Linked DNA regions of Homo sapiens. The protein of the gene in region 1 interacts with the protein of each later gene in a biochemical or structural test. Each region holds a gene or a part of one and is shown in the gene's direction. Other genes may lie near its edges.

Evidence for each region. The genes of interacting proteins can lie anywhere in the genome.
Region 2: the proteins of RHBDD1 (region 1) and MFHAS1 form a complex in vitro, tested with the Homo sapiens proteins (one large-scale study listed by BioGRID and IntAct).

The regions. Positions count from the first base shown.
Region 1 is NC_000002.12:226,991,593-226,996,408, forward strand, and holds part of RHBDD1 (rhomboid-related protein 4), read left to right. Parts: intron 1-3,838; coding exon 3,839-3,930; 3' UTR 3,931-4,816. UniProt on the Homo sapiens protein: Intramembrane-cleaving serine protease that cleaves single transmembrane or multi-pass membrane proteins in the hydrophobic plane of the membrane, luminal loops and juxtamembrane regions.
Region 2 is NC_000008.11:8,796,131-8,799,630, reverse strand, and holds part of MFHAS1 (malignant fibrous histiocytoma-amplified sequence 1), read left to right. Parts: intron 1-2,139; coding exon 2,140-2,266; intron 2,267-3,500. UniProt on the Homo sapiens protein: Probable GTP-binding protein. Functions in innate immunity and more specifically the inflammatory response as a regulator of the Toll-like receptor TLR2 and TLR4 signaling pathways.

The DNA.
Region 1 (4,816 bases):
GGCATTTACTGTCATGTGGCACTCAGCTAATCATTTTATATGCATTATCTCTTCTAATCCTTCAACAACCCAACAAAGGAGCTACTCAGTATTCCCATTTTATAGATAAGGAAACTAAGACCAAGAGCAAGAGGGTAGCCTACTTGCTCAAGGTTGTGTAGCTAAAAAGTGGAGGAGTTGGGATTTAATCACAGGTTGTCAAACTTCAGAATCATGGAAAGGACCCTGGAAGTCCCCTTTTTCAGTAGCCTCCTCTCACGTATGAGTCAACTGGACACTGCTGAAATGAAGCATCTTGTGAAGGGTGTCTCCACGAGTCCCAGGCAGAGCTGGGAAACTATCTCCTAATTCCCTACTAATACTTTTTCCTTTACACTCATGGGGACACCTCCTACCACCCCAAGGAAGCTTGTCCAGATTCTTTCCTGTGTGCTGAACAAATGTGAGTACATATCAGAAACACAAAGATAAGACCCTTCGAGAAAGCCTGCAAAGGATGCTGGAGGTTAAGGAGAGAGGTAGTAGATCATATGACACAAGTGGAAACTATAGAAACAATTTGACACATGAATGCAAAGGTGGGGAAGTAGAAGACAGAGTGTACCTGAGACTGAGTGGACAGCCAGGAAGCCTTGTGCCGAGTGTGGCTCCAACGCAGAGCACACACACAGTAGTCGGTGTAGGTTAGGGGCTGACATCAACTTTGTGATTCTCTTCGAAATAAGTTTTTATGCTTAAAAACATTCTCCTCAGATCAACTCATATTCAAAACAGTGTAGTTTTCAGAGTTGGAAACAAAGCAATTCGGCCATTCTTCAGAGAGTAAGATGGCTTTTGTATCAATAACACTGAGTTGGAAGGATTTAAAATACCCTTAAGAGCTGGCATGATTACAAATCGGGCATTATTGTGGTTTGGGTTGTATTGTTATACCCAAGGTCTTCTTGGTTCTAGAAAGCCGAACCATGCTAGTAGCCAGTGGAATTTAAGGAGACCCACGTGGGAACTTTAGAGTTACGTCTTTGATATCAGCAGAGTCCCACAGAATTGAGAACTTAGACTGGAACTTCTTATTTTTCTGTTTTCAGATAGCAGTGAGCTTCCCACATGTCCATATCCATGAAGAAAAGGGACACTGGGTTTGGGCAGGAAGGGCGGGAATGGTGAGAGGTGCAACCCTGAACACTTGCGGTGTGAGAACCGATGGCCACGTGGGGAAGTGGGAAAAGACTCAGAAGGTTCGCTGTTCTTCATGCTAGCTCAGTGACCTCAGATGTGTCCCTAACACCTTCTGAGCCTCTGTTTCCTCTTCTGCAAAACTGAGATGATTCTATTGGGAGTGAAAGCTAAGTGGAGAAGTGTACCTTGAAAGGGCTTTATAAAGAAGAGTGTGATGATTATTCTTCTCATGACATGAGTTTTCTACTTCAGCATGTGGCATTTCTTTGGTTGGCTCAGCCCTGGTTCTCCTCGAATGCCCTGCAAATGGGTCCAAGGCCGTGTGTGCTGGCTGCTCCTTTTGAGAGCTGGACCTCGGGCATCTTCCTAGTCTGCCCCTTCTAATTCCTCCAGGCAGTTCCCTTCATGGAAATTATTAATCTGCGGGCTTTTTCTTTTGAAGAAACGCTAAAGAAAACACCAGAGGACTCTGTGTTTCCCTCTGGGAGTCTCAGCAGTCTTTCAGCCTCCATGGGTTTCTGCCCTGTGGCCTGGAGTCAGGGTGCCACGTCGAGCTTGCTTCTGACTCTGCCCTCAGCTAGTTCTAACAGAGTTCCCAGGCCATCTGGAATGAGGTGTCAAGTCCTGGCCTGCACTCACAAGTGCAATTAAGACCAGTCTTTTTAAAAACAACTGTTAAAGGCAAAGGAGAATTTGGATCTCATCATATAAAACAGTTTTAAGCAATCAACTACTGGTGATTTGATTCATGAATATGTAATTTCAAAGCATTTACCATTTTGAACAAAGAGAGATTCCTTTACAAATACATATGGCAAAAACGTTTTTTGGGGTGTTTATTTTGGGGTGTTCTAGTCAGGAAGGGTACCAGGGGTTGGGGAGGTATAATTCTCCCATGCTCTCAACAGGAAAGGAGAATCAGTTATGGGGAAGCACTGGGATCTTCATCAGTAGAGAAGCAAAAATATAAAAAAGGGGTTGGCTTTGACTGCTTTTTTGAATTTCTCTTTGACAACGGAAACTTCAGCTGTGGATTGAAAAGACGGACTCCGTTTCCCACTGCTTTCTCTAACATCTTTTCACTATGGTTTTAACAGTTGCCATGTCAGCTTATGCATAGATGGACACATCTTTGAAAAGGTGCCACTCTTGGGCAATGAGCAAGAGGGATCCACTGTTTACTTGCTTTCCCTCCTGGCTTAACTGTGCTTTGCCCACCCTCCCTTCCCAGCCAGGCTAGTGCTGCCAGAACATTTGGGTTCTGCAAATGGGTCCAAGGCCATGTGTGCTGGCTGCTGCTTTTGAGAGCTGGACTGCGGGCACCTTCCCAGTCTGCCTCTTCTAATTCCTCCATGCAGTTCCCTTCATGGGCAATGAGTTGTGTCAGAACCTCACTGGGCAGCATTGGAAGTCATAAGCAGGTGCTGTTGAGTCAAGTCCATATATTTATTGAACAGCTACTGTGTGTTCAGAACTGTCCCAGATGCTGGGGAGAGGGAGATAGGTCAGGGGGTCCCCTACCATTTTAGAGCTTATGATCCTGGTAGGAGAGAACAGAGTGGTGCAGAAATGCCTACACATCTGGCAGGATGTGGTGATGATTGAATGAAGACAAACAAACGGAAGGTGCCGAAAGCTGAAGAGTTTGAATTGGGAAGAGTTCTTCCATTGGTTCTATCGGGGTTGACCTAGCATTACAAGAGTGAGTAAGACTTCTGGTTGATGTAGGTGATGGGAGAGAGCCTTTCAGTGCAAATTACCAAGGTTAGCAGAGCTATAGTAGTGAAAAGGTACAGCCTTTTTGGTCCCCATGCTTAGAAGTAAACCTCTACTTACCCGTATCTATCAGTGATGTGTCTTCCTGGTTTCCTCATGGGGAATATTGAAGCTCTTTCATTACCTTTAGGTTGCTGGTTCCTTGAGATCAAGGACTATGTATTTTTCTCCCTTTATTACTACTCATGATGCCTGGGAGAATGCTTTCTTATGTAGTGATTGAAATTCTTGTATCATTACAAACTGTGTTTTTGGTAAGTTTGCATCCCTAAGAAACTCTTTTCAGTAACGATTTCCACAGTCCTTCATATGATCTTGAAATATGATGCCTACATCTTTGTTTACCTGCCCAGATATTGATCAGTATGGTAACTCTGCTCCAGTGGTTGCTTGTGTGTTTCAATCACGCATGATTCTTATTGGCCACATTGGGGCAGGAGGCGGCACATTAGAGGGAAGAAAAGGAGCACCCAAAGGCTGATCAGAAGAAGCCAAACCAGCCTAGTTGGTGGGGAAGTTAGTAAAGGTGGCAACAAGTTATATATGGGCATAAAAAAAAAAAGACAATAAGCCCTTGAGATACTGTGTAAGCCTAAATGATGCAAATTATGGAGCACGATGGAAGGAAAAATACAAGTGGGAAGATTATCAAGAAGCCTCAAAATGAGTCAAATCAGATTCATGGCTGAACCACTCTAAAAATATTTACTTGACGTTGAAATTTAGTACTGACAGCTGAAGTTGAAAAATCTTTGTTATATTTCTGTTTTGTGTTAAAATGAAGATGACACCCAAGCTATCACTTTGTTCCCTTGGAATCCTAGGGTACACATGCCTTGTCACGTCAGAATGATTGATTTTTCCTTTGGCTTTCTCACTACAGGAAATACCAGAAATAGCCCACCACCCTACGGGTTTCATCTCTCACCAGAAGAAATGAGGAGACAGCGGCTTCACAGATTCGATAGCCAGTGAGGTGGCATCTTGGGAAGACATGGCCTATTCGTGTAATTATTGCCCATTTGGCTCATTCCCCAAGCCCCTAATTCATTTTAATTCATTTTAAACAAAAGCAGAGTACACCGGTATTGCTCCAGATCGCTCACATCACCTGGGACAGTCCCATGGCCCCTATGAGTCAACTCACAGCTTGCGGGGAGTGGGCCTTCTCCTGGCCTTGTTCTTGCTCATAAACAGGTCACTTCCTCCATGAAGAGACCAGTTTCCACGCTCCCATCTCTCACTGCTGACTCAGCGATGCCTCTGCCTCGGTCTGCTTTTGAAGACTGTGACCTTCACCAGGAGGTTTTACTTACACCAGTCGGGAAGATTAGTCCCTCATTCTGCCTGGAGTGCCCCGTGTTTGACTTGGCAGCGGGTGTGGAGCCATCCCCGCGTCCTCCTGGCGCATTGCCACTGTGGCTGTCCAGGAACAGGATGTGGCTGCCTTGGCCGAATGTTGTCCTACTCTCCCCAACCCCGGCGCCTCAGCTCCTCAGCTCCTCGGGCCCCTGCGTCTGGCTGGTGTTTGCAGGGCTTTCGCTCTGCTCTGGTATTGCTCTGCCTTTATAGAAAGTCTTATTGAAGAAGTGTAAGAAAGACCTAAGGTGGGGAAGACTCCTACACACACCATTAGTATCAGTGACACCAGCAATGTAGGTTCCCAGCCCCTTCCCAGTGGCAGCTTGTGTGTCCAGGAGATAGGACATCATTTAACGCATCAGCAAAGTAGCAGCAGATGCCACATACAGAGTAGAGCGAAGGCATTTGGTGGATCGGTCACTAGAGATCTATCTTGCAGAAAGTATGTTTTTCCTCATAAAAGTGCCTCTTAATTGGCCATTGTACCAGCCACTTGTCC
Region 2 (3,500 bases), on another chromosome or scaffold:
GTGCCCGCCAACATGCCTGGCTGATTTTTGTATTTCTAGTAGAGACTGGGTTTTACCATGTTGGCCAGGCTGATCTTGAACTCCTGGGCTCAAGCGATCCACCCGTCTTTGCCTCGCAAAGTGCTGGGATTAGAGGCATGAACCACTGTCCCAGCCAGAAATACAGTACTTTGAAGCAAAGGAATTTCATATCATTATACGTCAGCAGATACAGTGGTCCCCTTATCCATGGTTTCACTTTCTGTGATTTCAGTTACCTGCAATCAACTGTGGTCCAAATACATGTGAATGCAGCATAATAATAGTTTTTGAGAGACCATATTCATAAAAGTTTAATTATTAATACAGTATATTATCATTGTCCTATTTATTGTTGTAAATTTCTTACTGTGCCTAATTTATAAATTAAACTTTATCATAGGTATCTACTTATAGGCAAAAACATAGTCTGTATAGTCTTCGGTACTGTCCTCGGTTTCATGCATCCGCTGGGGTCTTGGAACGCATGTCTGAGGGATAAGGGGGGACTGCTCTTCTTTGGAGTCTCTAGAATTTCTTTTCTTTTTTTTTTTTTGTTGTTGTTGAGACAGATTCTCACTCTGTCGCCCAGGCTGGAGTGCAGTGGCGCAATCTGGGCTCACTGGAACCTCTGCCTTCCGGGTTCAAGCGATTCACCTGCCTCAGCCTCCTGGGTAGCTGGGACTACAGGCACCTGCCACAAATGCCTAGCTGATTTTTGTATTTTTAGTAGATGTGGAGTTTCACCTTATTGGCCAGGCTGGTCTCGAACTCCTGACCTTGTGATCCACCTGCCTCAGCCTTCCAAACTGCTAGGATTGCAGGTGTGAGCCACCGCGCCCAGCCCGGAGTCTCTAGAATTTCAAGTCAGCAGTAGAAGTGGTTGGTGCAGAGAGTTGAAGTTGTAATTGCAGTAGTGTCTTTCCCCAGTTGGTGTACATTTCACATCCTTGATTTGGTTAATTGACTTTCTAGAAGCCAGACATGGTGGCTCACACCTGTAATCCCAGCACTTTGGGAGGCTGAGGTGGGAGGATTGCTTGAGGCCAGAAGTTTGAGACCAGCCTGGGAAACATATCGAGACTCCTGTCTCTACAAAAATAAAGTAAAAGGTTAACATTTAGCCAGATGTGGTGCTGCATACCTGTGGTCCCAGCTATTTGGGAGTCTGAGGTGGGAGGATCACCTGAGCCTGGGAGATTGAGGCTGCAGAGAGCTGTGATTAGGCCACTGCACTTCAGCCTGGGTGACAAACCAAGAGCCTGTCTCCAAAACAACAACAAAAAATTTAGTTCCTAGGTTTAAGTAGGGCAGTTTGAACAATAATGTGTCCCATCTGCAGCCAGGAGCTGTTTCTTGAGTACTCTCTGAGAAAGGGCAGGGTGCCCTGGGTATATGGATGAGAGAATGGAAGTCATCACTGCTTTTAGAGATGTAATGATCTAGTTGAAGAGAGATTACATCCAGGGCATGCAGAGTAATAGCGTTCCTTTAAGTATTGTGGTGATCCATTAGGTTAATTATGTGTTTTTGCTAGACTCGTTAGATAGTGTTGTGTCGTGCATCTGCTTCACACATACCTATCAGGGCAATCCCCTTGCCCAGAGGAGGCTGGGCTGATCTTAGGCTGTTTGTGTTTTTAACACTTTTAGTCTGCTGTGTTTCCAGATCATTTATATAGGGCTTTGTTGAATGGTTGCTGTGGTCTGCTTGAGTCCCATCTGCCCCAAATCCTAATTATGAACACCTCCTTGGCAGCCCTTGCTTCGGTGGGCTCTGGGGACTCTGGCTCAGTCGTTGATATCTAGATAAAGATCCCTGGAGTCAGTCTGTTAAAAGGAAGGTGAGCAGAGCAGTGACAGATGCTGTCTTTGTCTAGTGTGGGCCTTCCTGCCATAACCATGAAAATTTTCTCCACGGTGACGCAGAGGAGGATTTAGGCGCTGGAGCCGGCGCCCAGGCAGTTCTGCTGTTCTTGGTTGCACATTTGTTCTCACATCCTTCGTTGCTTCACCTCTGCCCTTCTCCCCCTGCCCCCATCCCCGGGCAGTGCTGTCTTTGTAAAATGAGCCCATTTTTAGTGCACATCTCCCTAACACGTTTTTCTCTCTCCTCCTACAGGGGAGTTGCTGAGTCAGCCCAGACCGGAAGGAGTGGCAGAGATCATTTGCCCCAAGAACGGCAGCGAGCGAGTAAATGTTGCCTTGGTTTACCCACCCACGCCGACTGTGATCAGCCCCTGTTCCAAGTGAGTTCTCAAAGTCCCTCTGGCCCCGGGACCTGGCTCCTGATCCCAGCTCCATAGATATGACCACAAAAATCCAGGTTAAACTGCATCTGCACAAACCTTGCAAAGTCCTCCTGAACAGACATAATTCTTCTGGATGACATCAGCATCATGATTTATGCAGCAAAACAGGAACTTTTATTTCCTCTTTTTTGTGATTTTTTTTTTTTTTTTTACTTTAGCTAATAAAGTCAGAACATTTTTTAACAGCCTTTTTGAGATGTCATTCACATACCACAGTTCACTTACCTAAGTGTACAGTTCATTGGTTTTCAGTTTATTTGCAGGTATATGGAACCAAAAAGAACATTTTTTTTGTTGTTGTTTTTTGAGATGGAGTCTCGCTCTGTCACCCAGGCTGGAGTGCAGTGGTGCGATCTCGGCTCACTGCAAGCTCCGCCTCCCGGGTTCACCCCATTCTCCTGCCTCAGCCTCCCGAGTAGCTGGGACTACAGGCGCCCACCACCATGCCCAGCTAATTTTTTTGTATTTTTAGTAGAGACAGGGTTTCACCCTGTTAGCCAGGATGATCTCGATCTCCTGACCTCGGGATCCGCCCGTCTTGGCCTCCCAAAGTGCTGGGATTACAGGCGTGAGCCACCACGTCCGGCCTTTTTTTGCCTTTTTTTTTTTTTTTGTTTTGAGACGGAGTCTTGCTCTGTCGCCCAGGCTGGAGTGCAGTGGCGCCATCTTGGCTCACTGCAAGCTCCGCCTTCCGGGTTCGGGCCATTCTCCTGCCTCAGCCTCCCGAGTAGCTGGGACTACAGGCGCCCGCCACCGCGCCCGGCTAATTTTTTTGTATTTTTAGTAGAGACGGGGTTTCACCCTGTTAGCCAGGATGATCTCGATCTCCTGACCTCGGGATCCGCCCGTCTTGGCCTCCCAAAGTGCTGGGATTACAAAAGAAAATAGTTTTTTGACGGGCAGTCTTAACTCTGTCATTGCAGAATGAAGTTGGCTCTCACATCAAAAACCAGCGCAGGCCCATTCCATGAGCAAAGCCTGCAGAAAGTCAGTAATAGGCCGTTTTCTGTTGCATGGTTCTGATTGCGGAGTCAGTCCCTGAAAATCAAGGGCTGTGCAGTTTGCCACCACCTTGCCCCAAAATGGACTTGAAGACAGAGAACGCACACATGCCAAGTAACTTTCAGATAGAACATTGGGTTACTACTATTCTAGATAACACTCATCCTGT